Linked DNA regions of Homo sapiens: region 2 is linked to region 1. Evidence: fine-mapped expression QTL. A gene starts in region 1. The other region holds a variant in brackets. All regions are shown on one strand. Distances are from middle to middle.

Region 1 (15,088 bases):
CTTGAGATCAGGAGTTCGAGACCAGCCTGGCCATCATGGTGAAACCCCATCTCTAATAAAAATACAGAAATTAGCCGGGCGTGATGGCACACCCCTGTAATCCCAGCTACTTGGGAGGCTGAGGCAGGAGAATCCCTTGGACCCAGGAAGCAGAGGTTGCAGTGAGCCAAGATCACGCCACTGCACTCCACCCTGGGTGAGAATGAGACTCCAAAAAAAAAAAAAAAATTTGTCCTCCCACACCTTCACACAATGTCTCTGTTCCCTGTCGCCATCTCATTCTGCCCAGGAGGGCTGTAACAGAGAGATAGGGATAGAGGACCCCGTAGAGATGTGATCTGTGTTTCTATCATACCTGAGAGGCCAGCAGAAGAGGTGGGGCAAGCTTCCTCTCTCTGGATAGACAGGTCTTGGGAACCATGGGTCAGTGATTCTCTGATAGAGTGCAGCTAAGAATCACTTGGGGAGTGCGTTAAGAATACAGGTTTTTCAGGCTCCCTCCCTTTCCCAGGTCTAGCCCAAGGCCTAGAAATCTGCATTTTGGGGAAGTATTCCAGGTGATCCTGATGTGGGTGATCCCAAGCCGTAGTTTGAGAAACACTGGTCTAGACAACCCCTCCTCCAGGTTACAGATGGGGAAAGTGAAGTCCTGGGGCTGAAATGGCTTACTGGGGATCATATGGAATAAAGCCCAGAACCCAAGTGCCACCTTCTTTCCATGCCTGTCACCTCCTACACACGGAACCTGCCCAAGGGGCCCTGTGGCCCAGATTCTGCGATTCTTACTTTGTCAGTTCTCTTATCCTGGCCTGGCCTTCCCCCTCACTGCCACCACTGTAAACTGGATGTGAAGACACGGAACGGGGTTTCTCCACAGGCCAAACACCTTCCTGCCTCCCTCCATCCTTCCCCCTCCACCTCCTACCACCAAGTAACTCTTCCTAAAACACAGACTTACTCCCTGCCCTGCCCCTCCAGGAGCAGGACAAAGTGGGAAAGGCCTGCCCTGACCCTCCACACCTCCCCTGTTTGACCCAGCCTATCTCTCTGACCTTAGAGCCCGTGACTCCGCTATCAACCCTTCTCCACATGCTTTCCTCGAACACCACCTTGCTCTTTCTTGCTTCTGCTCAACATCACCTTAGCCAACAGCACCCACTCCCCACTCACCGAATCCTCCTTATCTTCCAAGGCCCAGGTGAAAGCCCTCCTCCTCCAGGAGGCCTTCCCTGACCATCTAGCCCTAGCACACTCGCCCTCCTTTGAGCACTCAGATCTCTGAAGCATTTGTTTATGATGTTATTATTACCTATTATGTTCTGCTTTGAATTGTGAGCTTTAAGTAATTCCCAACTATGGACCACAGCCTACCCTTCTATTACCCACCCACTTAGCAATGTGCTGTGCACATAATCAGTACATAAGGGATGTTAGCAATAACGGAGCCGTGCAGTGCTGGGGCTGAGGGGACCTTGGCCTGTGGGTAGCTGGTTGGTCAGTTCAGTGACTTTTCTATGCATCTTGGGCTGGTGAACCTCCAAAGGCTGACCTATGCAAATTGGTGTCAGATCTTTCTCTGGACGGTGCTTCCACTGTAGTAATCAACTTCCCGCCTGTCCCCGCCCACAGCCATTGCATCCTGTGGCTTTAACTTTGGCCACAACCCTGCTTGCTTAAAATGCCTCCTGTGCCAGTGAGTCAGTTCCACCCTTCTGCTACCAAAACAATCGATCTTGTGCATCTTCTGTGGCTGTGCCCCAACAAGACATTATCAACATTCCCGCACTGGCCAGGGGACTCAGGTGTCTGGCCTGCCACATCCATTCCAGCCAATGACCAATTTCTAATTCACTGCAACTCTCCAGCTAAGCTGATTTCCAGCTGCTTCTCTGGCAGGCCTGCCAGATGGGGCTAACATGCTCTTGGAGACCGTCCCACAGAAAGCCCAGGCAACAAGCACACTGGTGCTCCTCTCGCTTCATTTAAGACAAGCATCCCTCTTTCACTAAGCACTGACCAACACCTCTTCATCCATCGCTAGCTTACAATCACGGCAACAAGAAGTTAATTCTAGACATACTGACAGCTTAAGTTCTGGGACCTCAGCCAAACTTTCAGAGAGGAGCCCTTTCTTCTTTGTTTATAATAGGATATGTGTCCTGCAAGGGAGAAAGGCTCTCTCCTGCCCAGGACCCTTGCAGTCCGGAGGTGGGGCAAGTTACCTCCAAATCTTGGAGGTTTGGTAGAAATCCTTGCAGGAATCTGAAGCCTGGACACTATGACTCACAGTCCTGTGCCTGGAGCAGGCTCGCCTGCTTGGAGAAAGTGCAGTATGCAACCCAAGTTGAAGTGTTCTTAGGAGATGCCTTTGTACTCTCTTTCTACAATACAAGAACTGTGCTTCCGACCCTTCAAAATCACCTCCACAGAGCATGAAGTTTCTGTTTTTCTCATTAAATACAACCATTTCTATTTTCTTTTCAACAAAAAAGTATTTAAAATCTCTACTTACCAAAATAAGTCCACTTGGAACCTACAAAGAACAAAACACAGTAAGTAAGTACAATGGAACCAGATGAGTAATGGAAAACACTACAGATTTTGTTTTGATATGAGCGAAATTGAAAAGGAGGTCGATGCCCAGAAATTGAAACTTTTTCTTTTTCTTTTTTTTTTTTTTCAAGGTGGAGTATTGCTCTTGTTGCCCAGGCTGGAGTGCAGTGGCGCGATCTCGGCTCACTGCAACCTCTGCCTCCTGGGTTCAAGCAATTCTCCTGCCTCAGCCTCCTGAGTAGCTGGGATTACAGGCACGCACCGTCACGCCTGGTTAATTTTGTATTTTTAGTAGAGATGGGGTTTCTCCATGTTGGTCAGGCTGGTCTCAAACTCCCGACCTCAGGTGATCCGCCTGCCTTGGTCTCCCAAAGTGCTGGGATTATAGGCGTGAGCCACCATGCCCGGCCAAATTGAAACTTTTTCTGAGTCTGCATCAGAACAGCAGCTTCTCAGGGCAACTGTGCTCCAGTCAGCAGCACAGGCAGTTGGTTCATGCAGAGGCTCATGGAAGCAGGAGGGGGTTCTTGAGCAGGTGCCTTCCAGACATCTTAGAGAAGCTAAACTTTATTACCTGAATAGGCAATAATTTCATGTGGCTCAAAACCCAAAAGCCATCAAATGGTATATACAGTAGAAGCTCTTCTTCCCACTCTACCTTCCCTGCTTCCATTAGACAAGGAGGTTAGCTGATGATTGGGAGCCCTTTCATGGCATGGCTACACACACATATGCATTGATCTCCCTCTTTCTCCTCACACAAACATTGGCATACTGGAAATAGTGTTCTGTGTCTTGCTTTTTCCCACTTTACATTTTCTCTCTCTCTCTGTCTCTCCCCTCCCACTCTCTTTCTTTCCTTTCTTTCTTTCTTTCTTTCTTTCTTTCTTTCTTTCTTTCTTTCTCTCTCTCTCGCTCTCTCTCTTTCTTCTTTTTCTTTTTCTTTCTCTCTTTCTCTTTCTTTTTGTGAGACAGGGTCTCACTCTGTCACTGGAGTACAGTGGTGTGATCGCAGCTCACTGCAGCCTCAACCTCCTGGGCTCAAGCAATCCTCCCACCTCAGCCTCCCTAGTAGCTGGGATTACAGGCGCGCACCACCACACCTGGCTAATTTTTGTATTTTTCACAGAGATGGAGTTTCACCATGTTGCCCAGGCTGATCTCAAACTCCTGGGCTCAAGCGATCTGCCCACTCCAGCCTCCCAAAGGGCTGGGATTACAGGTGTGAGCCACAGCACCCAGCTGGGAAAAAGTTTCTCTTTGAGGAAGCTGCTACCCACATCTGAGTTAGAATTCCAGGGGTAGTAGGAATGTGTAGGCAAAGTTCTGCCAGAAAGAGAACAAAAGTCACCCACTACTTCGCACTCCACACTCTTCATGCATAAATGTTCTTCGTTCCTATGTCAAAAAAGGTCTTTTTCACAAGTGCAGAGCTGTGCTCTTGTGACCCTGCCTGCCGGCCTTCCTCTTCACCTCCGAGGAAGGGACCCTGAGTAGAGAAGCATCCCACTGTGTGTCTCAGGTGACTCATCCAATGAGGGGACTGTGCAACTCCTAAATCCCTGCCTCCCAACTTTTCCCAGGGTCTCCGTGGTTCTCGACCCACAAGGGTACAGATGGAAAAGCGTACCCTTGTGGGGAAGCACCTCACATCCCCTTTCTCTCGTGGGAATTAGTTTGCAGTAAAACTTAAGTGACAAGCAATCTGGTCACTTATCACTCCTGGCATTTCCTACTTAAGGAAATTGTGTTTTTTAAAAGTTAAAAAGTGAACTTGGCTTTTTTTTTAAAAAAAAGCCGGTTTAATCTCATATTTTTTGTTATTCTGTTCCATTTCTTTGCCTCAGTGTTTGTAATTAATTTTGTTTTTAATTTTCCAATGTAATTGGTAATTTTTATCAAATTACACTTGCACGTGGTTTAGAAAGTCAGATGGTTCTACAAAGCTGTGTAACAAAAACCTCAGTTCCCTGACATTCCCTAACCATGTACTGCTCCCTAGAGCAACCACTTTGGATCTTTTTAAAATGATTCTTTTGCTATTATCTCCATATCTCTATATAACATGCTAATATTGTTTTACCTTGATTGTTTTATGTTTAGGCATTATTTATTGACATCCCACCCTGGAAGAGAAGAGTTCAGATCTCTTTCTTACACTCATAGCCCATCTCCTCCTTTTGTAGGTGAGGAAATGAAAGTCCACCAAGGTGAAGTGTCCTGACCAATATCATATTCCCACTGGAAGGAGTCCCACCGCATTTACCATTAATTTAGCATTAGTGCCATGAACTTAGGGAATCTTCAAGTCTCCTCAATCTTTGGAGTAGTTAAGTGGAGGAGTCCAGACCCCCTGGAGTATCCGATGAGTATTATGGACCTCTCCCAGTAAAAATTTCCCTAAGCTGGCTGGGTACGGTGGCTCACCCCTGTAATCCCAGCACTTTGGAAGACCAAGACAGGCAGATCGCCTGAGGTCAGGAGTTCGAGACCAGCCTGGCCAACATGGTGAAACCCTGTCTCTACTAAAAATACAAAAATTAGGCAGGCGTGGTGGCGGGTGCCTGTAATCCCAGCTGCTGGGGAGGCTGAGGCAGGAGAATTGCTTGAACCCGGGAGGCGGAGGTTGCAGTGAGCTGAGATTGTGCCATTGCACTCCAGAATGGGTGACAGAGCGAGACTCTGTCTCAAAAAAAAAATTTCCCTAAGCTTAGACACATAAAGTTTTATATACAAGTCATTTCAGAAGGTCCACAGACTCCCCTGAAACCAGCTATGGGTGCATTGAGAGTTGAGGGTCCCAAGATCAACCTCCCTTGAATTAGTAATTAGACATTCAGAACCACGGGGAAACCAAACTTGTATGTGACCCCCAAGTTTACTGCTCACCCCTTTGCTGAAACAACAATGAAAAAAAATAAAGAAAGCATTGCTTTCAAACCAAGCTATAGAAGACATAAAACCTCTTCTGGACATTTTCTTCAGTCTTTTGTGTGAGAGGTTCATTATTAAGATGTAATCCCAGACCTTAGAGATATAATAAGCCAGATCATTACCTCTTAGCAGGCAGAACAGTTGGAGGCCCAGGATGTAAAATTCCACAAATAACAGAGGAGTTCACCCTTACTTTTCCCCTGAGGAGGCACAGGCCACTCCAGTGATCCTGGAGGCCACTAGAAACACATCTGCTGCCTGAGCACTGCTGCCTTGCCAGCAGTTTGCATTGTACCTGCTCACATTCAAATCATAGCCTTATACCCTACATCTTCTGCTACCCTCCCAGGGCTCGCTAATCAAGGTTTTCCCTGTTGTTGGAGTTCTCATCCTCAGATGAGGCCTCAGCATCACACTCTGGAAAGCTCAGGGCTAAAAGTCATAGAGTGGACATCTGGGACTGTGAGGTCGCGGTGGTGACATAGGACTGGGGACTTGTTGAAAGGCAGCAGCCTCCAGAGCAACATTCCCTGCCCTCCTCTCTGTGAGTGAGCTGGCTTGGGACTCCAGACTCGGCACTTTGGGTATAAATGGCAGTGTCTGGAGGGGCTCAGGAGCTGGAGGGCTGGGGAGAAGCGGCGTTGTAAGTGAGGATGGTGAGTCAAGGGGGTTCATCGGGTGAGGATCAGGGCCCCAGCTCAGCTCTGACCTCAGGAAGTCTCTCTAAAAGTGTGTGTATGTGTGCGTGTGTGTGTGTGCACGCGCACGAAAGTGTGCTTTATTCAGGAATTGCACCCCCTGGTTCCCCACTTCTAGCTGTAAGAACAGAAGGCTTAAAAGGATTAAACTGATTCCACAAGCGAGGCCAGGCCAAGGCCTCAGTGGCATCCTGAGGGAGCAGGCCCTTCCTGGAGGGGAATAGTTTCCTTCCCAAGGAAGGTTATCTGTTCCATCTGGGAAACCTGGGAGGCTCAGCCTGAAACCTGTTAGAACCTGCAGACCCAGCTGGTACTGGGCAGGGAGGTTCCCCTGGAGGGAATGCCCAGAGAAAATGGTATTTACCAAGATCCATATCAGAGGTCCTGGGCCCTGCCTGCTTCCTGTGCTGGGTGCTAGAACTTTCCCTGAGTAACCATCTCCTGGGTAGCCCAAGACTGCCTGGCTCTCCACACCAGGTTTGGGCAGGGCAAGCTCTGCAGAATTCACTGAAATGCCCCCCAAAGCCACGGCAACTAAGAATTCCAAGGGTTTCTCCAGAAGACACTTGACTTCACATTATTATGCTCCCTCCTGGGCCCCTGACATTGTTCTTGAACATTCTCCAATGCTGGAAGTTTAAATGCACCAGGCAGAGAGCAGATCACACTTTGACCCCATTACTCAGCTTAACTCCTCTCCACCTCCAACTTTGGGTTCATGCTGACATTCTACACCTCAGTGATTTTTGCTTTGACCTGTCCTCTAAGGCAGTTAAAAACCCAAGGAAACTGCATGAGAATTTACAGAATAAAAGCTGTGCTCTACCCAGGGGTAGGCAGTCTCCTTCCTCAGAGTGAGGCGAAAGTGGAGTTTTGACTACAAACTTCCCCAGTCCCAACTTGGAGAATTGGGAGAGGAGATAAGGAGGAGGGAAAGGGAGAGGGAAGAGGAAGAGCAGGGAAAGTAGGGAAGAAAGGAAGGGGAGGGAGGGAAGAGAACAGGGAAGGGCAGGAAAAGAGAGAGAAGGGAGGCAGAGCTGCCCCAGAGTGAGAGGAGCAACCAGCTATAGGAAAGAGGGCCAACTAATGGCTGTTTCTCCCTTTGGTCTTGGAGCAACTTAGGACTAAAGAGATTTCCAGGGAAACTTTGGTCTCAGTGCAGCTTTCGTAAAAGGAAACATGTAAAGTTTGTGGTTTTAAAACTTGATTTTCACTTTTACATCGCTCCTTTCTCCCAACTTCTGTTACATCGCTTCTGTTTCTCCCTGACCAGATGAGGGAGATAATATCAAGCACATCATGCCAGCTAGTTGACTGGAATTTAATTAAGAGTTATCCACAGCCTGGCTCCCCTGCCCTTCCCCATGGGCACTGTGACCTCCAAGAGAGGAGGCTCAGAGCTTTTATGCTGCTGAGCAGGACACATTTCCCACCACCACTGCCTCGCCAGGAAGAATCTAGTTTCAGCCAGTAAAATCACTTTCGGTCCAAAATCACTTTCTTATTCCAAAAGATTAATGAACCAGCCTTGGCTGTACACGTGTTAGCTCACTGGCCCGGCGTGAGCCCACAGTTCAGGTCCCCTCTGCCACCTCCTCCTGTCACTCCACGGAGCCTCCATTCAGTCCCTCAGCCTCCAGCCTTTTGGGATTTAGTGTTCTAATTACAATCAGAAATATGCTGTGTGTGTGTGTGTGTGTGTGTGTGTGGTTTGTGTGCGTGCGCGCGTGCGTGTGTGTGTGTACGTGCACACACACGTACATTCAGCATAGTAGAGCCCTCCTGGAGAAAAACAATGATTAAGAATGGGATGCATCATCCCTTTGACTTGTAGGTAAGACTTAATGGTAAAGATCCTCTCCTCCAAAGAAAAGCGCCTACCACTGTCTGCGGGTTCTGCACAGGGGCACAGCAAACCTTTCTCTGTGCTTACCCCAATCAGAATGCCACAGTCATGTCTCTACTTTCTAAACGTGGATCAGGGGAACGCTGTTTTAAATCTTGGCTTTGCATCTCCTCCCTGGTTAGCAAGTTCCCAAGCCACATCTTCAGAGCTGGCGGTGCCCGGGAGTACACGCAAACATTTTAACACCAAATCTGCGCCAAGCGCCACTAGAAAGCAACGTGCTTCCCGACCCAACCTCAGCAAAGGAAAACGGAGCATCCTTTCTTGAGAATCTACTATTTGGTACTACACCTTCCCTGCTCCCCGCAGCAATGATTTTACTTTATCATTGAAGAGCCTTCAGCCCAGGGGCGGCTGAGCGCTCAGGAGTGTTAGGAAAGAAGCAGGCGGAAACTTTACCGTTCACTGGGGCCGGGCTGGAAGGCTGTTCCTTTAAGATCACCAGCAGGAGCACGGCCGCCGCGTGCAGGCTGCGCCGGGGCATCTTCGCGGGCTCCTGCGGGGCGGGCGCGGGCTGTGCCGGGGGCTCCCGGTGGCCGCTCGCTCTCCAGCTGCACACCGGGACCGCGTGCGCGCAGCCTGGGTGCCGTGGCGAGTACGTCCGCCCTTCGCTCTCCTGGCTTCCCCGGGCAGCTTTTATGGAGCAACTCAACGCCAAACACTTGATGTCATCGTGCGGGGAGGGGGTGGGGGAGGAGAACGCCCTGCCCACCGGAGGGCTGGCGCCCCAGATCCTAGGTGAGTTGTAGCCTTGACTTCAGCAGCACTCTGCGGGTCCCCGGCGCTCCTCTGGGCCAGGGCTGACCCAGGAACACAGTTCTCCGAGGAGCTGCTGGCAGGCGTGGGTGAGATCCGCCTGTCTCACATCCAGAAGGGTGCGTCTAGGGATTCCTTCAGTGGCATGCCCTTGGTCTGTCACTGGTCCTGTAACAGCCCAACGAGTTCACCTTGCCCGCTGCTTAGACAGAGCCCATTTATCAAGACAGGGGAGTTGCAATGGAGAAAGTAATTCACGCAGAGCTTGCCGTGCCGGAGACCGGAGGTTTTCGTTCCTTTGTTTGTTTGTTTGAGACGGAGTCTCGCTCTGTTGCCCAGGCCGGAGTGCAATAGCGTGATCTCGGCTCACTGCAACCTCCGCCTCCCGGGTTCAAGCGATTCTCCTGCCTCAGCCTCCCGAGTAGCTGGGATTACAGGCACATGCCACCATGCCCAGATAATTTTTGTATTTTTAGTAGAGGCGGGGTTTCGCCAGTTTAAGGCTGGCCTTAAACTCCCGACCTCAGATAATTCACCTGCCTTGGCTTCCCAAAGTGCTGGGATTACAGGCGCCCACCACCACACCCGGCTAATTTTTCTAATTTTAGTAGAGACGGGGTTTCACCATGTTGGCCAGGCTGGTCTGGAACTCCTGACCTCAAATGATCCACCTACCTTGGCCTCCTAAAGTACTGGGATTCCAGTACTCAAATCAGTCTCCCCAAGCATTCCGGGAGTTGTTTGTTTGTTTGTTTGTTCAGACGGAGTCTCCCTCTGTCGCCCAGGCTGAAATGCAGTGGCATGGTCTTGGCTCACTGCAACCTCTGCCTCACGGGTTCAAGCGATTCTCCTGCCTCAGCCTCCTGGGTAGCTGGGATTACAGGCACGCGCCGCCACACCCAGCTAATTTTTGTATTTTTAGTAGAGACGGGGTTTCACCATGTTGGCCAGGCTGGTCTTGATCTCTTGATCTCGTGATCCACCTAAAGTGCTGGGATTACAGGCGTTGAACCACTGCACCCTGCCTCTGGGAGTTTTTAAAGATAATTTGGCAGATAGGGGCTTGGGACTTGGGGAGTGCTGATTGGTCAGGTTGCAGATGGGATCACAGGGGGGTTGAAGTAACGTTTTCTTGCAGTCTTCTGTTCCTGGGTGGGATCGCAGAACTGGTTGAGCCAGATCACACACGGTCTGAGTGGTGTCAGCTGATCCATCCAGTGCAGGGTCTGCAAAATAGGATGTTAGATTTTACAATAGCGATGTTATCCCCAGCAGCAACTTGGGAAGGTTCAGACTCTTGCAGCCTGACGCCGCAGGACCCCTAAACCATAATTTCTAATGTTGTAACTAATAGATTAATCGTACAAAGGCAGACTGGCACCCAGGCAAGAAGGGGGTCTTTTCGGGAAAGGGCTATTATTGATTTTGTTTCTGAGTCAAACCATAAACTGAATTCCTTTCTAAGGTTAGTTTGGCCTATGCCCAGGAATGAATAAGGACAGCATGAAAGTTAGAAGAAAGACTGAGTCATTTAGGTCTGATCTTTGTCACTGCCATAATTTCCTCAGTTATAATTTTTGCAAAGGCTGTTTCAGCCCTACTCAGAATCCCCCAAGTATAGTGCCATTTGGGCAAAAGCCTCCTTCATGCTTTTTTTTTTTTTTCTTCAGGTGCCTGCCTGGACTTAGCACAGGTTAAGGAACTGGACAAGATAGTTACATTCACATGAGTTTCTGCCAATTGTTCAGTGCATCCTGATTAAGTTCTTACCTTCCAAGTTGAGATGCAAAGAGATGAACTGAGAATAGGAGAACAGCACAGTGGGGTACACATGAAGAGCTTATCACAATTCCCCTTAGTAACGGGTAAGTAGATGGGACTCATGCTGGTTCAATACATCATTCCATCCTCACTAGGAAGCTGGGAGAGAGGGTCCCTCTTTTGGGGTGGCAGCAGAAGAAAGGGACTTACATTATTTACTGAGCACCCGTTGTGTGTCAGGCACTTTTTTGGGGGGCTTAGAACATGATACCCCAAAGTATGGCACCTTGGCATGCTGAGTACTTTGAACTGAAGGAAACTGAAAAGGCCTCAGAAACAAGGTCTCTCTGACCTTCTCCCATCCTCCTGTCTCCTGCCCCTTCTTCTCCCGCTAAGTGAATCATAGAAACCAGAATCCCTCTTCCCCAGGCAGGTCATAGAAAGTAGAGCCCCTCTCCTCCACAGCAAGCCATAAAATCTAGAAACATCACTCTCTCCCCTCTCCCTTCTCCTTTAAAGACCCTCATTCGAGAGGGGTCCTGCCCCATACCCAGGAGAAAGCAATGCTACACAGAGAGGTCAAGAAGAATTGGAACGGACAGGCCTTGCTGGGTTCCCCTCAGTCTATCACTATGAGATCACACCCTTCTCTCCAATCACATTTCTATACGGCCATCCATGTTCTTCATCAAACCTAAGCAGAAACACCGTTCTCCCTGAGTCTTTGGGTCTTCATTTCTGAAGTCTCTTGTGTCACTTGTTGGCCTGTCTTTTGTTATTTGAGTGTCAACTGTGACCTTTATGATGGGGGAGGAAAGGGATCACACCTTTCTGTCCCTACAGGCTGTGCTAGACCTACAGGCTGTGCTAGAGAAACAGGAGTGTTTCTCTAGTCTTGTTAACCTGCTGCCCCAATACCCCCTAAATCTTCCCACTGCTGTTGCCACCACTGTAGTCATTTGTGCTTCTGGCTTCCCTGGGCCCTCCGTGTGTCTCTGCACCGCTGCAGGGGCCAGGCTCGGTTTCCTCCCCGCTCTATGATCCTACTCACTGCTGCCTATGCACACTGCTCAGGTCACATGGGCTGCGGAAGGGTGTCCACCCCAGTTCTGGTACAGGACCCCTGGGTTTGTGACCTGGCCTGTCATGCCCTCTTCTCTTGGCCACAGCAGCCAGACAAGCCCTCTCTGATCTCACATCTGTGCTGACCCTCAGCCTGTGCACACTCTCAGGCCAGCCTTAGTGACCAATGAAGCCACTTGTCCGTGGTGGGTTTGAAGGGATGGAGTAACTTCTCCTCCAAGAGCCACCAAAAAGCAGATGCCACCCACATTTCAAGGGGTGTTACTGCTCTGTCCCTACCAGCTCAGCTACTGTGTGGGTTAATAAAGGGCTTTGAAGTCTCCTTAAGGAAGTTGTTACAAAGACAATCTTGTTACAAGCACTTCCAGACCACAGTAGGCTTAGGGATCATCTTTTCTGCCTGATAGAGGGCCTCGAGTGAGCTCTGGAGTGGTGCAGGAGTGTTTCTCTTGTTCAGATTTGTCATCAAGGGCAGTCTGTCTGTTTAGAAGATTAAATGGACTAGAGGAACACAGAGCTTGGGGAGAAACCACTGCAGGCTCAAAGACGCAGAGACCGAATCTGTGGAGGTGAAATCACTTGTTGCGCATGTCACAACCAGTTAAAGGTAAACTGGGCCATGCACACATATTTTGGTATTCCCACTCCAGGTGTTCACCCATCATGTCTGTCTAAACATTAAGTTCATTGTCTCCTGGAACATGCACCTCTAAGTATTCTCCAGAGATCCCCAGAGATGGAGAGGTTAAAATGGCAGAAACAGGTGGACTTCATAGACCAGTAAGGCTAGATTGTGAACTGGGTTTCATAGACAGAATGAACAGGGCTGAGATGTTTACTGCATGGCTGTGTCAGAAACTTGGTTAATTAGTAAATAATGGATAGCAATTAAAAGGGAATTGAGCATGTAAACTGAGACCCAGAATTATTATTATTATTATGAATGGAATGACCACAGGTATTCAAGTTGAATGTCAAGGATCCCCCCCTGACAAACAGCACAGACCCAACCAGCTTAAGTTCCCAACTCTGGGAATCCTTTGTCTGCTTCCTCAGGCTTGTGCAGATGAACATGCAAGGGCTTGCTGTGCCATCATCAGCTGGGGCTGTTGTCAGCCAATAAATAACCCATTGCTCAATGAGTTAGGGTAGAAAGTAGACCTTCTGCACTCAAAATGTGGCAATTGGCCACCAAATGACATGCCTAGACAGGGAATGGTACCCCCTAGGATGTTACCATCTGAATAGACACAAGGGTGAGGCTGGTGAGTCAAGGGGCAGAGAAGCAGGAATGAACAAGGATTTGGTGTTAGGAAGTCTGGGTTGGCTGAAGTGCCTGCCCCACCACTTCCTCAATGGCTGACCTTGACCGTGATGCAAGCTTTCATCCTCTGTAAAATGAAGGTGTAATCCATACCCCTGAGTCATCATAGAATTGATATATGGCTGGAAGGTGATAAGGCCAGTGGACATTTTCTTCATTCATTCATTCATTCATCTTCTATGTGCCAGGCACTATGCTAGGCTCTTGGAGAGTGCACAAACATAAAACAAATAATCTCATGAATAACTATATAATTACAACTCTAATGAGTGCAATAGAAGGTTGAGATATGACTGAGAGGGGCCCACTCTGTCCTGGGGTGGTGAGGAAGACATCATCAGTATAAGGATTATGTTTTGTGACTTCATAAAACCTTTGAAATGCACAGCACATACCAGGCTCTTCTTTCCCAAACCTAGTGCCATTTGGTGGCATTTGCCCTGACATAGCTAGTTGTTAGCCTTTCAGGCATAAAGGTTAGAGTATAGAGAATTTTGTTTCTTAAGGTGATAATTTTATTTCTTAAGATAAGAATGAACTCTTCAAATGGTGTCACTCAATTGGGAATGCACCTTTATATGGAGCTAAAGAAAGGACTGCTGGGAGGAAAATAGACATTTAGTGAGCACCTACTGTTTGCCTGCCACTGTGCTTGACACTTTATTCTTACAACAACATGCAGGGATAGTGTTAGGTTTGCCATTTTATAGATGAGGAATCTGAGGCTTGGAGAAGTTGAATCTTTTCTAGTTCATGAGGAACCCAGATGATTTTGTCTCCAAGGCCCAGGCAGGCTCTTTTCATGGCTGTCCTACAGATACCTCAGATGGAGATGTTTTCTTACTGGGTGCCTCTAAGAGGAGGATTCTCCAGTTTTCCTTCTTTTCTTTTCTTTTTTTTTTTTTTTTTTTTGGACAGTCTTCTCTGTCGCCCAGGCTGCAGTGCAGTGGTGTGATCTCTGCTCACTGCAACCTCCGCCTCCCAGGTTGAAGTGATTCTCCTACCTCAGCCTCCTGAGTAGCTGGGACTACAGGCGTGTGCCACCACACCTGACTAATTTTTGTATTTTTGGTAGAGATGGGGTTTTACTATGTTGGCCAGGCTGGTCTTGAACTCCTGGCCTGAAGTGATCTGCCTACCTCAGCCTCTGAAAGTGCTGGGATTACAAGCATGAGCCACCATGCCTGGCCTACGGTTCTCCAATTTTCTAGATGCTGTGATCGTTTGTTTGTTGATCAGAGGCACGTGTACCGATTGTAGCAATCAAATAATGCTCAGCATGGGATATGGCTGTGTCTGAGGGACCAAGGGACCCTGTATCATACTCTGTGATCAGTGGATAGAACATTTGCCAAAAGAAGAGCTCAGAGCTTTGAATCGACGTAGGTCTCAAGCAAAGGAAGGAGAATGTGAGCCATACCAAATAGCTCTTCTGTTACATTAACGAGGTTTGCTTTGACTTAGGAAGGCCAGACAAGACAGAGGCAGAGAGGGAAGGGGGAGGAAGGGAGAAGAGGGAGGAAGGAGGGAAGAAGGAAGGAAAAGTCCACATTGTATCCTTTGACTGGGCAGTGGCTGAGGGAACCTCTAGGCCAAGACTCACATAGACCCATTGATCTGGGTACCAATGTCTGTGTTTTAAAATATAGCCAGTTTTGTAGTTTTATTCACATCTGCGTCTTCCCTTTCACGGTGATGGCTTGGAGGCGTAACCCCTGTGTGAACCCTCGCTGCCCTGCTCAGTTTCAGGCGGGATCAGTTGGAGGACAGTGTGACCTGGAGGAAAGAATGCCAGGCTTCTGACTCTGCCAGGAGCCAGCAGTGGAATGTCAGCAAGTCCCTTGCCGTGTTTCTGCTTCTGTTTTCTAATCTGTAAGTCGAAATAAGAATGTCTAACTCCACACAGGGTTGGCAGTGGGATGAGGCCGTATATGTGAGAGCACTTTGGGAAGAAATAAATAACGACATTTGTCGTACATAAGATGTCACTCCTAAGAGTGGACTTCACAAGAAAGGAAGTGTGTTTGATCTCAGCTTTGGTTTACTAATCTAAGAAAATAAAAACTGGATTCC
Region 2 (15,088 bases), 33 kb before region 1:
TTTAGGCTGTGGAGGACAGGTATGAGCAGTGACATGGAACTCAGATGACCTAACTTTGGGTCTCAGCTTTGTCACTAACCCGCGGGTGATCCCACAGACTTCTACTCTTCTCTCTCATCTCCTATCAAATAAGAAGCTTTAGAGGTGATGGCTAAGGATTTTGTTCCCCAGTTTGCACTAGACCTTGAGCTTCTTGGGGGCAGGGACCCTCACTTAGTCATTGCTGCAATCCCATCTCTTAAATGATTTCATCTGATCCTGTCTTTATTCTGCCCTGTAAAGGAACCAGGCTCTCTCCTGCCTGGGAAGTGAATACCACCCAGCCACTGAGGATATATTAGCAAATGCAGATTTAGAGCTCTTTTTTTTAAAAAAGAACTAGGAGACATCTATTCATTTGCCTAGCTTGACTTCTTTTGAAGCTCAGCCTGGAATTTCTGCGGTGCTTTCAGACACCTGTGATATTTGGAGAGGTTTTGAAGAGCTGCCAATGAAACTAAATGAGGAAATCAAGTCATTGATTGTGATATGGAGGATGATGGGGACTGAGGTGCCGCGTGGACTCTGGCTGAGTCTGGCACGACAGTTACCTGCTCCTGGGAAATTTGCACGGGGTTTCGGAAAACTGTCCAGAGCACAGTGGGGTTGCAAGGGGGTGTGGTCAGGGACCCCCGGTAGCGGTAATATTCAGCGGTCCTCTCCGGAAGCAGCTCTTCAATGTTGAATCCCGGGACGAATGCTTCCTGGCCTAGAGAGACATGTTGCAGAGGTGATAGTGTCAGCCTCCCTCCGTAGGGCATAAGTGCAGCTGAACAGAGCGACTGAGCCTAGAAACATGAACTAGCCCCTTTCAGGGTCATCTAACCCCAGGACCTGGTTGCAACATTGTTCAACAACCTGCTGCTCTTAACCTGGTGAACACAGACAGCACCTGCCCCTTGTGTTTGCTTTTCTTAAAGTCACACAGGGCTGACTACCTCCTTCTCCAGCAGAGAGTGAATATGCATGCAAGGACCCCTCACCTTTGTACTTTACATGTTGAAGGTGACTGAAGATCTTGTCATAGGACGGATTGAAGGAGCCCATCTGCAACAGAGACAGGGCAGGTTAAACTGGGACAGAACAGGATAGGCTGAGCCAGGATTGACGATTGCTATCAGAAGGGCAAAGCTGTGGGTATGTTGCCACCACTGCCTGAAGGATCCACTTTACTGGACAATTATGATGGATCACTAGGCTCTTGGGAGTTAGTGTAATGGTCCTGCCTCTTGCATCTCAGGACGTCCTGTTTTCAGCTTAAGGAGTTGGGCTTGAATGTCCTGGGGCATAGGGTACCGTGTGTGCTCTTGATGATCCAGATATGAGCCTGAAGGCTTTGACTAACATCCATGTCACACAGAACTTAAGGAGCTCTGAGTTCACAAAAGCCACGTCAGACAAATGAGCATGTTGGGAAATGAGGTACATACAGCCTCATTAGGAAAAAAAAACATGCAAGCCAATCAGAAGACATTCCTCTATCTTGGGATAAAAAAAGAATTCATTCCAGGGTACATATAGAGCAGGGGTGCCCAGCCCCCAGGCTGTGGACCAGTACCGGTCTGTGGCCTGTTAGGAACTGGGCCGCACAGCAGGAGGTGAGCAGCGGGCAAGCAAGCATTACAGCCTGAGCTCCGCCCCCTGTCAAATCAGCAGAGGCCTCCCATTCTCATAGGAGCACAAGCCCTATTGTGAACTGCGCATGCAAGGGATCTAGGCTGTGTATTCCTTACGGAATCTAACTAATGCTTGATGATCTGAGGTGGAACAGTTTCATCCCAAAACCATCTCCCTCCCTGGTCCATGGTCCGTGGAAAAATTGTCTTCTATGAAACTGGTCCCTGGTGCCAAAAAGGTTGGGGACCACTGATCTAGAGGTCCCTTGGATCTAGAGGAGCTTGGATGGCAGGAGTTGTATCAAGAGTTCAGGCATCTGATGGGGCAGATGGAGTTTGATGATCCCTTTCCAGCACAGGTCCTCCCCAACTGGGCAATTCCATGCCTTATGCAACAGGGCTAGATGTTGGGGCCCGTTTTTCCAACGGACCAAAGAACATTCCCCATTTCTGCTGCCCAGGCACAGAAAGTGCTGCCTCCAGGCCAAGAGAGAAGGTGCACTACAGGAGGATACCCCCTGCTCTGGAGTTGACACGGAGTCGATACAGGAACAGCTGATTATCAACAGGTATGCATGGAACAAAAGGTGGAATCCCAATCTCATCCCTGCTTCAAATTTCACCTAAGAACCTTTTAAATATCTCTTACCTCAATGAGAACAGCCAGGACAGCGAGGCCTTCTGACTTGTTGCTGGCAGTGCTGGCGTCAGGATAAAGGTCTGAGTTATAATGGACAATGTGCAGCTGCAGTGGGGGAGAAGCCACCCATTAGGAGATAAGCGACTCATGGGAGCCTGTCGCTTCTGCAGAAGACTTGACTCCAACTGTGAGGACAGAACCCCAGCCCCCTCAGCCCCCCAGACTAGGTTAGGTCTCTCAGACCCTCCCCTTATTTTGCCAAGGATAAGGACATGTGCCCAAGGTGGTCAGGGCATGGCTTGTTTTGATACATTTTAGAGACATAATACATCAATCAATACGTACAAGATACACTGGTTTGATCTGGAAGGGCAGGAAAACTCAAATTGGAGGCTTCCAGGACATAGGTAGATTTAACTTTTTTCTGACTGGCAATCGGTTGAGAGTTATCATCAATAGAAAGGAATGTCTGGGTTCCAATAAGGGGTTGTAGAGACCAAGATTTTATCATGCAGAGGAAGAATACAAGTAGCAGGCTTCAGAGAGAATAGACTGTAAATATTTCTGATCAGACCTAAGGTCTGTGTTGATGTTAATGAATGTGGGCTTTTCCTAAATTCCAAAAGGGAGGAGGGTATAATGGGTCATGTCCAACTCCCTCTTCCCATCATGGCCTGAACTAGTTTTCATGTTAACTTTGGAATGCCCTTGGTCAAGAGGAGAGGTCCATTCAGATGGCAGGTGGGTGGGGTGGGGGGCTTAGAATTTATTTTTGGTTTACACAACCCATGCATTTTTGCTGGTTCTTTGTCCTTGAGACTATGACATATTGAGATTTTAACTCTATTTCTTTTCTCTTTTCATTCATCCTTTTCCATCTCATGTGTTTATAAATACAGTTCAACATATGTTATTGAATACAGCTTAATTTTCCCATTTCGAACTTTAAGTGGCTCCTTCTAACTTAAAAAAAATTATATATCAAATTATTTCTTCTTTTAAGTGGTCCTCTATTAAGGATTTCTTCAGAGCTCCTACTTCACCATCTTCCCCTCAAAGGACTTAGTCTGCCACACTGCCCACACCATCTCGGCCTGGCATCACTTTGAGAAACAGAGCTGAATTCTATATGATTAAAACCCCTGAGGTCCTAAGCCCCTATTTCCTTTTACAGCTGACCTTTGAGCTTGTGGTTTGTCTGTACTTTTCTTATTGTGCTCAGAGGAAGTGAAGACTAATCCAAGCATAAAGGAGCTCCCTGTTGAGGAGATTAAGATAGAAAGAATCTTTTTTTTTTTTTTTTTTTTTAATGGAGTTTCGCTCTTGTTGCCCAGGCTGGAGTGCAATGGCGTGATCTTGGCTCACCGCAACCTCCGCCTCCCAGGTTCAAGCGATTCCCCTGCCTCAGCCTCCCGAGTAGCTAGGATTACAGGCATGTGCCACCAAGCCCGGCTAATTTTGCATTTTTAGTAGAGATGGGGTTTCACCATGTTGGTCAGGCTGGTCTCGAACTCCTGACCTCCGGTGATCCACCCGTCTCAGCCTCCCAAAGTGCTGGGATTATAGGTGTGAGCCAACATGCCCCACCAGAATCTTCTTATATGAACTCCATCCCAAAGAACCACTACACTTCCAAGGTCCTTCCTTAGAGGACCCACTTTAGGGACACCCTGATGCCTTTTCTCTAGTATTGGCATTTATGGTCCATCTTAACCAGACTCTTGGTCTGATGCTGTGACTTAATAGCAGAAAATACAAGAAGTAGAAATATTTTAAAACACATAAACCCTGCCAATCTACACCCTAACCTCCTTTGTGAAAGGAAAATAAATCTCGAGACCCCCAAATCACTAAGCCAAAGAGAAAAGTCAAGCTGGGAGCTGCCTCCCATTCTATTCCTAAATAAGACGGCTACAAAGATAAAAAAGCAACACACCTCACATTTTGCCCACTAGGAAATTCACTGTGGGCCGCAAGGTCTTTACCCTAAAACAGTTCTGTTGAATTTCACCGTGACAATGTAAATGGATAACTTATCTTCATGGGTTCAGGACAAAGGATAGAACTCAAAGTCATCCCTCTGCTCACCTGAGACAAATGCATTTCTAATTGCTTCCTCTGCCCATGTCTGTTTTATTTTGTAAGAATGCAGATTCGCTGAGCTAGATGAATGCACAAGTGACTATTCCTCTACCCCTCTCTCACATGTGAACGGCTGATCAAAAACTCAGAAGAATGCGACCTCTTGCCTCTTACCTCCCCACACCTTTTAAACATTTCTCCCTCTTTCCCCAGTGTCTGCCCTTTCCCCTTTAAATATTGAAGCCCTCAAAATCATCTTTGTAGAAAGGCACAGACTTGTCTCCCTGTCTCCCGGGCATGTGTCCTTAACCTTGGCAAAATAAACTTCTAAATGGATTGAGTCTCAGACACTTTTTGGTTTACACCTTCTTTATTCCCCATGGGGGAAGCAGAAGTCTCAACACTGCAATTAGCCTGGAGGAAATTTCAGTTCTTGAGCTTCAGGGAAGGGCCGCTCTGAAATATGTGAACCTCCAGTGGTACCATCCTATTGAACCAGATCCTATCCCTTCCATGCTTGCAAGTAGACCTATGATTAGTCTGAAACATTAAGCAGTTCAGCAGTTATGACTGGAGGGGAATGGTCTCTATTTACCACGGACTCCCCTGGCTGATCAGTCAGCAGCATTTATCTGCTTGTATTTCCCTGTAAATATTCAGAGCCACACCCCCAGTTCAGGGCTATTGGAGTGCCAAAATGGAGCATCTCAACCCCCTCCTTGCCCCACCCCATCCTGCAATTGCATAGGACAAATGCTCTGCCCGTCTTCTAATTTTCTTTTGGCATTTCGGAGTAGCTTCTCAAGGCAACATGACACGATGCTGTGCTGGCTGACATCTTGTCCCTAGTGAGTCTGCTTGCCGTGATGCCCTGCACATTAGACTGCCAGGTACCCCTAGACTTGTGGCCAGGTAGAAGGGTGGCCCTAGACCCATGTCCCCATGTTCTAAACACAACCCATGCCCAGAGAGGGAAAGATAGCATCAAAATGATGCAAACAGCATGACATATGAAGAAAGGCTGAGAAGTTTGGGGGAGCAGTGAGCCCAGTGTGAGTCAGCAGGAGATTTTTATCTGCACAGATAGGAAGGCAATGTCTAAAAGAAGGGCATGTATGTCCCACTGGGCCACCCTGGGAATACTGCCTCCCCAGCAGCATCACTCAGTAAAAGACACAGGGACAAACTTAGCATGTTCAGGAGAAGAAAGGGACCAGGACAGTGCAGATGAGCTACAGGCTAGTGGAGTGGCTGCGCCCCTTGTGCCAGGGCCAGAGGTGGGGCAGAGAGCCTGAAGGCAGCCTGTCCCATGCTCTGGTGTTATCTGCACAGCAGCCAGGTCGAGAAGGTGCCACACCACCCACTGCAGAGCAGCCTCTGCCAGACTGGCAGCCCTACTTACCTCGGCGGCGAAGTGCTGTCCGCTGACGGTGTGCTCAGAGCCGTGCGGGTCATTCGGGTTCCCCCAGTGCAGGTGCAGCTGCGTGGCACTGTAGCGAGACTGGAGGCCCTGGATGTGCATGTCCGAGGGCAGGTTCAGCTTCACTGCGGGGAGTGGAGGAGCAGCCTTCAGAGCCCCGGCCAGCTGTGCACTGCCAGAGAGCAGTCAGGTAGGCAATGCTCCCTCCACCCCTGCTGCCACCCCCTGGAGCCCAGAGAGAGGCAGGTGGATGGAGTGAGGTGCGGAGCAGAGATGCAGCCTAAAGGTCAGACACCTGGGCTCTTTCCCTGAGAATGTTCCCTTTTCCCCAAAGCAACTCCAGTGGCACCAGCACCTTCTTGGTTCACCTTGGAAAGTGATGCCAGAAACGCTAACACTAGACCAACGGATGGGTGTTTATTTACATATTGATGGATCAGACACCTTTAGTGAAGTACCTTCCAAGCTTTAGAATTATATAGCAACAGCAACGATAACTGCTATTTATGAAGCATTTACTTCACTCTGTATGCCAGACCCCAACGTACATAATCTCCAGTCTTCACGGTATCCATCAATATGTCCATTTCCAGATGGAAGCTCAAGGAGACTAAAATTCTCACCTAGATTCTCATGGCTCGTAAGCAGTCAAGCCAGAGTTCAAATCCAGGTTGGTCTGACTCCAAAGCCTGGGCACCCCCCGCCAAACTGTGTGGTTCCTTGAATCGTTTATGGTCCAGAATTCACTCCAGCTGCACAGCCAATGAACTACAGTGCTCAGGCCGGTCTCCTGCCCCATCCTGAGAGATGTGCTTCTTCTGGGAAGTGCGGCCCTGGCAGGATCCTCAGAGCCCAGAGCCTCCAGCATCCCCTGGAGAGAGTGCTCCTGGAATCTCTCAAAGACACCCCCGCCCCGCCCCACCCCTCCTCCTGGATGCTTCCACGGAACACCTCCCTGCCAGATGGAAAAGGACAGGCCTGGCAGCTGAGGGAGACTCAGACATACCCCTCAGGTCTCCAAGGCCTCTCCCTCACCTGAATGGCCATTGTTGGTCAGGAGAAACTGCTTGTTGGCAGACAGATTGTAGCCTTGGAACTCGAGGGGCGTGAGGCTGGCGTCATACTGGAGGATGTCACTGTGCAGGTCTATGGGGGACTGCAGCAGGCCCCCACACGACGGGTACTTCTTGGACCAGCTATTCTCCCCATCAGGACCTGGACACAGAGATCCATGCTCAAGATTTAGAGTTTCTCACAAAGGGATTTTCCTTATCTTCTAATTCTCTGTTCAATACAATTACTCCTTTTCTCCTCTTTTCTGAATCCCCGGAGGTAAATCTTCAAGGCTCAGAGTCTTGGCCTCCAGAATCAGGTCCAGCAACCACTCAGGAC[C/A]ACCTGCTCTTAAGTGATGTGGGGAAAGAAGGACTAGGGCTGCACAGGCCAGAGCCAGAAGGCCACCGAACTCTGCTTTATTTTGTACATTGTTCCTGTTTGACACACACGTCAAGACCTGTTGACTTTCAGCAATTCAGCATCTGCTTAGCCAGTACCTATTATGAGCCAGGAATTACTCTGGGTCTTGGGGCTGCCAGGTTGAATACAATAGAGCCCCTGCTCATCCAAGCTGGCATTCTAGCGGGGAAGAATTTAGCAAATCTGCGGGGCCACCCCAGGTGGGAAAAATTAGTGTCTTACTGACCACAGTGCCAAGTATTATCTTGGTGCAAAAATAATTGCGGTTTTTGCCATTCCTTTCAGGCAAAAACCACAACTGCTTTTGCACCAACCTAAATAGGTCTTTGTGGCTGCTGGCTTTGCAAGTATGACCTTCCTGAAGAGAAACCCCTGAGGACATTGACTCTTGATACCCACATTTAGAGTAACTATAGAACCCAATCTGATAGGGATGATTGACAAATGTTAAATAATTATAGGCCTGGAATCACAGAGTGAAGTGCAGAGTTTAAGCTGGAAAAAAATATGACCACACTATAAACTAATTATTACAATATAATTGACACACTATCAGTGAAGAGGAACAGACTTTAAAAAAAGAAATTCCTCCAGGGCTCAAGCTTCTTGCTAACTACCAGATAGCAGTTCCTCCCCTGGAAATGAAAATAAACATGCTATGTGCAGATGAACTTTCCTACTCCCACAGGGAAAAAGTCTTTAAAGAATGTAAATCTATGTTTAAAAGATTATCTCCACGGTAATTAAACAGACTTTCAGGCCAAGGTTTCTCCAGAAAAGCAAAGAATTGGCATGTCATGGCTCGTTAGGGTAGACCCAGGGTGTCCTGTGGGCTCTATCAGAGCTGGGGATCAAGCTTTGCCATCTGGGGGTCCGTTCATCAGTATTTCAACACAAGGAAGGTGGGTAAATAGAGAAAAGGGGAAAGGAACACCACCTCTTCTGGGAATTCTTCTGTAGACCCCTGCACTGTTTCACAAGGGTGTAAATGTTATATTGGCCCCACAGAATCCCAACCCCCTACATCGTGCTCTCTAACTAGGGGACCGTATCTGAGAGTGGGAAGAATCCGAAGTGATACTTGGTACCCAGGTTCATTTCAAATGCTATGAGGCGTTGGTCCCAGGCTTAGTTAGTTCTTACTTCTAGGTCCGGACACACACATCGGAACCCTACTGATTTTTCAGGCTGTCAACCTTAGGCTATGCATTTTCAGAAATGTTACAGCATGACGGAATTGCAGAATCTCCAGTCCAACCTTTCACTGGACACCAGTCTTCTCACTTGGGCATGGCAGAGTCTCCGCTGAGCTCTACTATTCTTATTTTCAAGGCCTCAAAATAACTCAACTACACCAAGATGGTGACTAGGGAAGAGGGAGGCTGGAGGATATCAAAGCAGGCACTCCAGGGCCAAACTGGAGTAAGACAATTATTCAGCTGGGGGCCAAACCGAATGCTTTAGGGGCAGCGGGGAGCAGAATGAAGCAACCGTGAGGCCTCATGTAGAACCCCAGGGTCAGGAAGAGACACAGCACAGGGTAAGACTCCCTAAGTGAGGCTGCCAGCCTTTTCTGTGCTCACAATACTGCCTGGGCCCACAGCCAGCAGGGCGGAAGCTGCCAGCCAGGCATGAATGCAAAAAACTCAGGAAGTAAAGAGATGCATCATTGAGAAGCTTTCTCTTTGCACACATGACTAAAGGGAACTGGATTAGAAGGGTTTTCTTTTCCCACAGTGGAGGTTCAAAAAGGTTTCATCAAGAGGGCATTTTACTGATAGCTAAACGAGAGCCTCGTGAAGATAGGGACCCCTCATCTTCGTCTCTGTGAACCCATATTATAAGTAGGGTCACGTGCCCCCATGGGCATTTAGGAAACATTTTCCCAAAGAGTGAAAAAGAACAGAGGGCTTGGGAAAATGTGACTTGGGGAATGTTTCCTTTTTCTCTTGCTCTAAATACGCTTTATTGGAAGTTAGGACCAAATAAGGTATTTGGGGGGCAGGAAAGACTAAGGATATTAAAGGCAGTAGAGTTGGTGTTGGCAAAACCTGTCTTGGAAAGAGAAGCAGCTATGTTGGACCAGGGGAGTCCAGAGAATGAGATTCCAGCATCAGCTGTCCCAACACTTCAGTGGGTTATGTTCCCTGCTGGAGCCTCCATTGCCCTTCGTGCAAATGGTGGGGGTGGTGGGCGTAGTGGTGGGGATGGGATGTGTGTGGAAGCTATGTTCTGGAAGGTTCCTTCTGGCTCTTAAGCTCTGATATTTATTAAGAATACTAGGACTAAGCACCTTCTCCATCTGTCAGGCAAATTTGAATGAGTCAGAAAGGTTGCTCATGTCAAGGCAGCTACTGGGCATGTGACAAGGTGCCCAGGGGAACCAGCTTCGGGAATGAGGGCACAGGGCACCGGTGCTCCAGGACTGGCTGGGATCAGACAGCCATCTGCATCAGGAACCTGCCCTGGTCCTGGCTGCCATCCACAGCGGAGTTCGTCCTTGGGCACCAGTCACAGGTCTGTAGGTCAGCAAGGTCAAGAAAGCCTTGTCTTCGCCTCCTCCTCCTCCTCCTCATTGTTATTATATTGTAGTAGCTTTGATCCTTATAACTCTATAACCTTACGGGGTAAGCAAGGCAGAATTGCACCATTTTATGGGTGAAAAATAGAGATTTAAGAGATTTGCCGGAAGTTTGACTTTGGCTAAGTAACAGTTACTTTGCTTGGGTCACAGGACTTATGTGTCCTTCAGTATTTATCCAGGAGATTTTGTGCACCTGGAATTTCCTGGCTTCCCCACGCTGTCCTTGAAGACAAGGACCACGGCTCATCCATCGCTGCACTTCCCACAGTGCCTGGCACAGAGTGGGCCCTCACATGTTTACTAAGCTGAACTCTCAACACCTGTTTCATGCTTGTTCCTTTCCCAGGGAACGTGCACCCACCTTAATTCCCTCATGTATTTCTTCTCCTCAAAAAAGAGGAGGAAAAATGAGATCACTTGCTCAGGTTCAAAATGTACCCTCCTAGCTTTCTAGCTTACCTGTGTGCAAATGGTTTCTGTTTGGGGGCACTAATTGAAAAAGAAATCTGATTTCTGCCCTGTAGCCTGGGAGACGGCCTGCCAAGGAAGTTCATAGGGCCCTCCCCCAGCATGTAATGGCTAGTGGGTGTCCCCGCCTTGCATAGCTGGGGACACTGTCAGAGCAGCCTCCTGTCTTTGTGGCATGTGAGAGATAGAGGTGCCATGAGGGTGGGCACCGGGACAACCAATATCAGAGGTGACAACAGCAGGCCTTTCTGTTCCCTGAGCTGTGACATGTGACTGCACAGTGCTGGCCTTATGCTGGCCGCTACACCCTGGGCTACCATTTTCCAACTCAGTGTCAGCTTTCACACTCATGCCAAGTGCTCCACTGCCAGAAATCCTCCACTGGGAGTGACTCTCCTAAAAGAAGCATTTATTTCCAGCTAAAACTTTGCCTTTGCTCTTCTGAGTTTTGACTTCGCCTCTCCAGTTGGTTGGACTCCTCCCATGATCGTGATACAGGAGGATCACGTGTCTTTCACAGTTTGTTTTTCTAAATAAAGCCAAGGCATTATTTCTTTCCTGTCTATGTGTTTTTCCTGCTCTAGGCAAAACAGAAGTGGTCAGAATTCCTGTTTCGAAAGGTAACAAGAGATTAACATGGCACAGCTCAAAATGCCTCTCGTGATTTCTGATTGGGAATTTTGAGGCCCAGGGTGTAGGACCTGCATTATCCAAGGACCAGAATGTTTTTACAGAAAATTTCAAATGTATACAATGTAGAGAGAGGAGTGGAATGAACCCCATGTCACCCAGCTTGGACAGTTTACAATTCAGAAACAGTCCTGCCTCATCTATGCTAAGCCCATTCTCCCCTTATCTACCTGGATAACTGGAAACAAATCCAGATATATTTCATCTGTATATATTTCATATGTTTCTCTAAAACATAAGGGCTCTTAAAACCACAGTACCATGACCACACCTAGAGAGTTAAGAATTAATACCTTAAGATTACCGAATCCAATTAGAATTCAAATTTTTCCAAATAGGTCATAAATTTTTAACAGTTTGTAAATTTCAGGGTTCACATACAGTCCATATATTTTTTGCAATATTGCAATTAGAGGATGTGTTATGGCCTAGATTACAGCTTGATGGTGGAATGCCTCATCAGAGAACACCTGGGCCCCGCTCCTCCAAGGCTCAACATCTCAGAGCCAGCTTGGTCTATCCTTTGCCCTTAGTGGGTCATGGACTCCCATGCTTCCATGGGTTAGGCCCTCGCCATGTCACACTGCAAAGGCTTCCCACAGGCAACCAGCCCCAGCCTTCCTTGTTACACTGCCAGGCTGGCTCTCCTGCAGTAACCAGATCAATCTTGTCATAGCCTGGCTTGGGTGGCACCACCCCACCACCCATCCGTACACTCCCTTTCTCCCTAGCATGCCCTGCCCCACCCCAACAAGACAAAGCACAGCCTAGCTGTTTTTCATGGCCTTGAAGTGCCCCAACCTGTCAAAGTCTTCAAAGGCCCCCACATCCCGCCCCAGCCTGCCCCATGCTTCAGCCAGCTCCCTGAGCCTAAGAACAGGCTATGCCAACCCACCTTCACAAATGCCGTTATGAAAAAATCTGCTCAAATGCCCTCTTCTTTCCTCTGCACCTTTCCAAATTTCGTCCACTCTTCAAAGTCCAGCTCAGGTCCTGCCAAAGCTACCCCAGTGCTTTCTAGTCCCTGACTTGAACTTCTCGGCCAGCCTACTCGGGTTGTGCACACTAGCAAGCAGTGATGATTGTTAGCCTGCCTCACCTGTGACTGTTAGAGCCAGACTAGTACAGAAACTTATTACAGACTAGAGCTCAGAATATGAGTTTCAAAGACCTTTGGAAGACCAGAACTTTATGTCATATCCCTACTTATGTCTGAACACATCCTTGAATGGATGTGGAGGGTTTTTTTAAGCTCATTTCAGAAATTTAGCCATAAAGGGATGAGAGAAGGGTGTATGCGTGGTGGTTATGGTAAGGTGAGGGTAATGTGAAAGATTTTGTTTTTTGTTTCTGTTTTTGTTTTTGAGACTGAGTCTTGCTCTGTCACCAAGGCTGGAGTGCAGTGGTGCAATCTCAGCTCACTGCAACCTCCGCCTCCCAGGTTCAAGCAATTCTTCTGCCTCAGCCTCCCAAGTAGCTGGGATTACAGGTGCGTGCCTCCACGCCCAGCTAATTTTTTATATTTTTAGTCGACATGGGGTTTCGCCATGTTGGCCAGGCTGGTCTCAGACTCCTGACCTAAAGCGATCCACCTGCCTTGGCCTCCCAAAGTGCTGGGAATACAGGCGCGAGCCACCGCACCCAGCCTGTGTTTTTGTTTTTTATGAAGAGGCTTGAGCAAACTGCTATGCAGACGGCAAAAGAGACCAGAGAAGGAAGGTTGGAGACAGAAGAAAGAGGGGCTCACTGATGAAAGGTAGCCATGAGAAGACAGTGGGGGGATCCAGGCACCAGAGTCAACATTAATTCTGCCCCATGACACTTCTTGGAGGTCATACTCTGAGGTGGACCCCCCTGTGTCTGTGTCAGTGCTCACTGCAGGCAGCTTCCTGGAGAACCTGCCTGGGCCCAAGCTCCAGGGTACATCTCTTTGGGCCGGCTACCAACACGCAGTCAGATCAAAACTTGCCCCAAAGGATACCACTGTAGTGGCAAAGTTTACACATTCTAGATGATGACACGCCCTTTTTCAACAAATAGGCACAATTTCAGGACAATGATAGCTTTTGGTTAGTCCCTCAAAGTTTGTTTTGTAAGGAGGTCTGACCATAATGAAAGGCATGTGTATCTATATGAAAATGATCAAAAATTATGTACCAAATTTGAATACACATTTAATAAGATGGATTGTATTTGCAATAAAAAACGAGTACTCAAATGTTGAATGAAGGAGAAAAATCTCTAAATGCTCTCCTTCTTGGAGTGCAATTTAATTTTGGAGTTAATGCATTCATTTCTTCAACAAATGTGTCTAGTATGTGTCAGGCACTGTACTAGGTGCTGAAGATGCAATGGAGAACAAAACAGCTCTAGTCTCTGACCTTGCGGCACTCACAGACCAGTGTAAGAGACTGATAATAAATAACAAGTAAACCAATGCACAAGGAAATAATTGCAATCTGCAATGAGCGCTGCAAAGGAATTAAACGAGGGCTGCAACAGAAAAATGGAGGGATCCCTGTCAAGCAGATGATGCAGGCAGGCTTCCCAGAGGAGGCGCCGTTAAAGCTGAGATTTAAAGGACAAGTAGAACCAACCATGAGTGAAACGTGAGGAATGGCGTTCACTAGAGAGGGCCCAGCAAGCTCAGAGGCCCCGCTGCAGTGGAGAGGCTGGTATATTCTAGGGATGTGTGATGCATTGACTCAGAAAGAGTCTGGGATCCATCCGGCCTCCCTTTGCCAGGTCTGGGTCCTGCCCTGTGCCAAGGCTGAGCTAGGATCATTTGACACCTGCTTGTGTACATTCCTCCATCTGTTAGAAAGGTCTTCCTGTTGGGAGGCTAGTACCTGCCTCTCTCTGGGGGTCATCCAACAGTCCCGCTCTTGTGGCTAGAGCCACAGAGAACACAGCTAAGCCACAGGACTCAGAGGGGACCGCAGACTTCATGTCCCCTCTAAATCCATCTGGAAACCAGACATCCTCAGGATGGTGTCTGCATGTAAAAGCCATTTTTTTAAAGAGATGGGGTCTTGCTATATTGCCCAGGCTGGTCTCAGACTCCTGGGCTGAAATGATCCTCCTGCCTCAGCCTCCCAAAGTGCTGGGATTATAGATGTGAGCCACTGCACCCAGCCTAGAAGCTACATTTTAAAAACATGTTTAAAATATATTTATAGGTCCTGCAGTTCACTTCTGAAGCTGATTAAAATATCTATGTCTTCTCATAAAAACCCAGTGGGTTCAGCCAGTCAGTAGTGTGGTTCCCACAGCATCACCTTGGTAAGAGGTTGACCCACCGCACAGAAGGCCACAACCTGCTGAATTCTACCTGTTTTCCTGCTGGGTAGGCGGAGAGGCACAGTCATAAACCCCAATGTCCTGCCCAGAAGGAAAGGAGGTGACCAAGGACATGGGTTAATAATTGATGGATGAGGTCTTATGATGTTATTATGTACAAACAGAGGGCGAGGAATCAAACTAGCGTTAGAGTTTTCCTTTGTCAGTATCACCACTGAATCAGAGGTGGTCCCGGGACAGTGAGGGAGGGCTAGAAGGGGAGGGTTACTTGTTATGAATAAAGCTCAAAGCTGGACTTGCCATAGCAGGCCAACTCTTTTTCTTGGATTTTACATTATAGATCAATAAAAATAAACACATTTTCTAAAGATGCTTTAATCCATACTTTGCATCAAACTTTTGTCTAATTTTTGTTTGGGTCAGCTGGAGACGGAGGGTTGAGACTTGGGCTTGGTAAATCCCCCCAAATCTCCCCTTGGGGAGGCAGGAGGATCAGTTGAGCCCAGGAGTTTGAGACAAGCCTGGGCAACATAGCAAGACCCCATCTCTAAACAACAAAAAAAGTGGCTTCTACATGCAGACACCATCCTGAGGATGTCTGATTTCCAGATGGATTTAGAGGGGACATGAAGGCTGCTGTTCCCTCTGAGTCTTGTGGCTTAGCTGTGTTCTCTGTGGCTCTAGTCACAGGGGCAGGACTGATGGATGTATTAACACAGAGAGAGATGGGAATCATTTCCCATCCAGCCATGGTGGTGGGGGCCAGGAGTGCAGGC

Alleles and levels. Positions count from the first base shown, and alleles are read on the strand shown. Sizes are in standard deviations (SD) of each study's normalised expression.
For the expression in monocytes after LPS of the gene that starts at base 8,701 in region 1, allele A in region 2 goes with a higher level than allele C (moderate effect, 0.46 SD a copy in Fairfax 2014).

The links. PIP is the estimated chance that this variant, and not a neighbour inherited with it, causes the effect. A credible set is the group of variants that fine-mapping cannot tell apart.
Region 2: its variant is the best candidate, but not a certain one, in a credible set for the expression of CA12 in monocytes after LPS (Fairfax 2014, PIP 0.58).

What each region holds. Positions count from the first base shown.
Region 1 is chr15:63,373,146-63,388,233 of GRCh38, forward strand. It overlaps CA12 (carbonic anhydrase 12), which reads right to left and starts at 8,701. Exons shown (of 11, transcript NM_001218.5): 1 at 8,491-8,701; 2 at 2,513-2,533. The coding sequence starts at 8,575. RefSeq lists enhancers at 8,385-8,905, 8,906-9,425.
Region 2 is chr15:63,339,698-63,354,785 of GRCh38, forward strand. CA12 (carbonic anhydrase 12) reads right to left here. Exons shown (of 11, transcript NM_001218.5): 3 at 6,833-7,012; 4 at 5,780-5,922; 5 at 2,305-2,400; 6 at 1,023-1,086; 7 at 591-748. LOC124903506 (a long non-coding RNA gene) reads left to right here. Exons shown (of 3, transcript XR_007064676.1): 2 at 2,117-2,224; 3 at 4,441-4,713. Among named protein-coding and RNA genes, the nearest start is that of CA12, 35 kb to the right of the region's middle. RefSeq lists a silencer at 5,713-5,900, an enhancer at 6,656-6,825 and a cis regulatory region at 6,741. The variant C/A (reference allele first, on the strand shown) is at 7,190.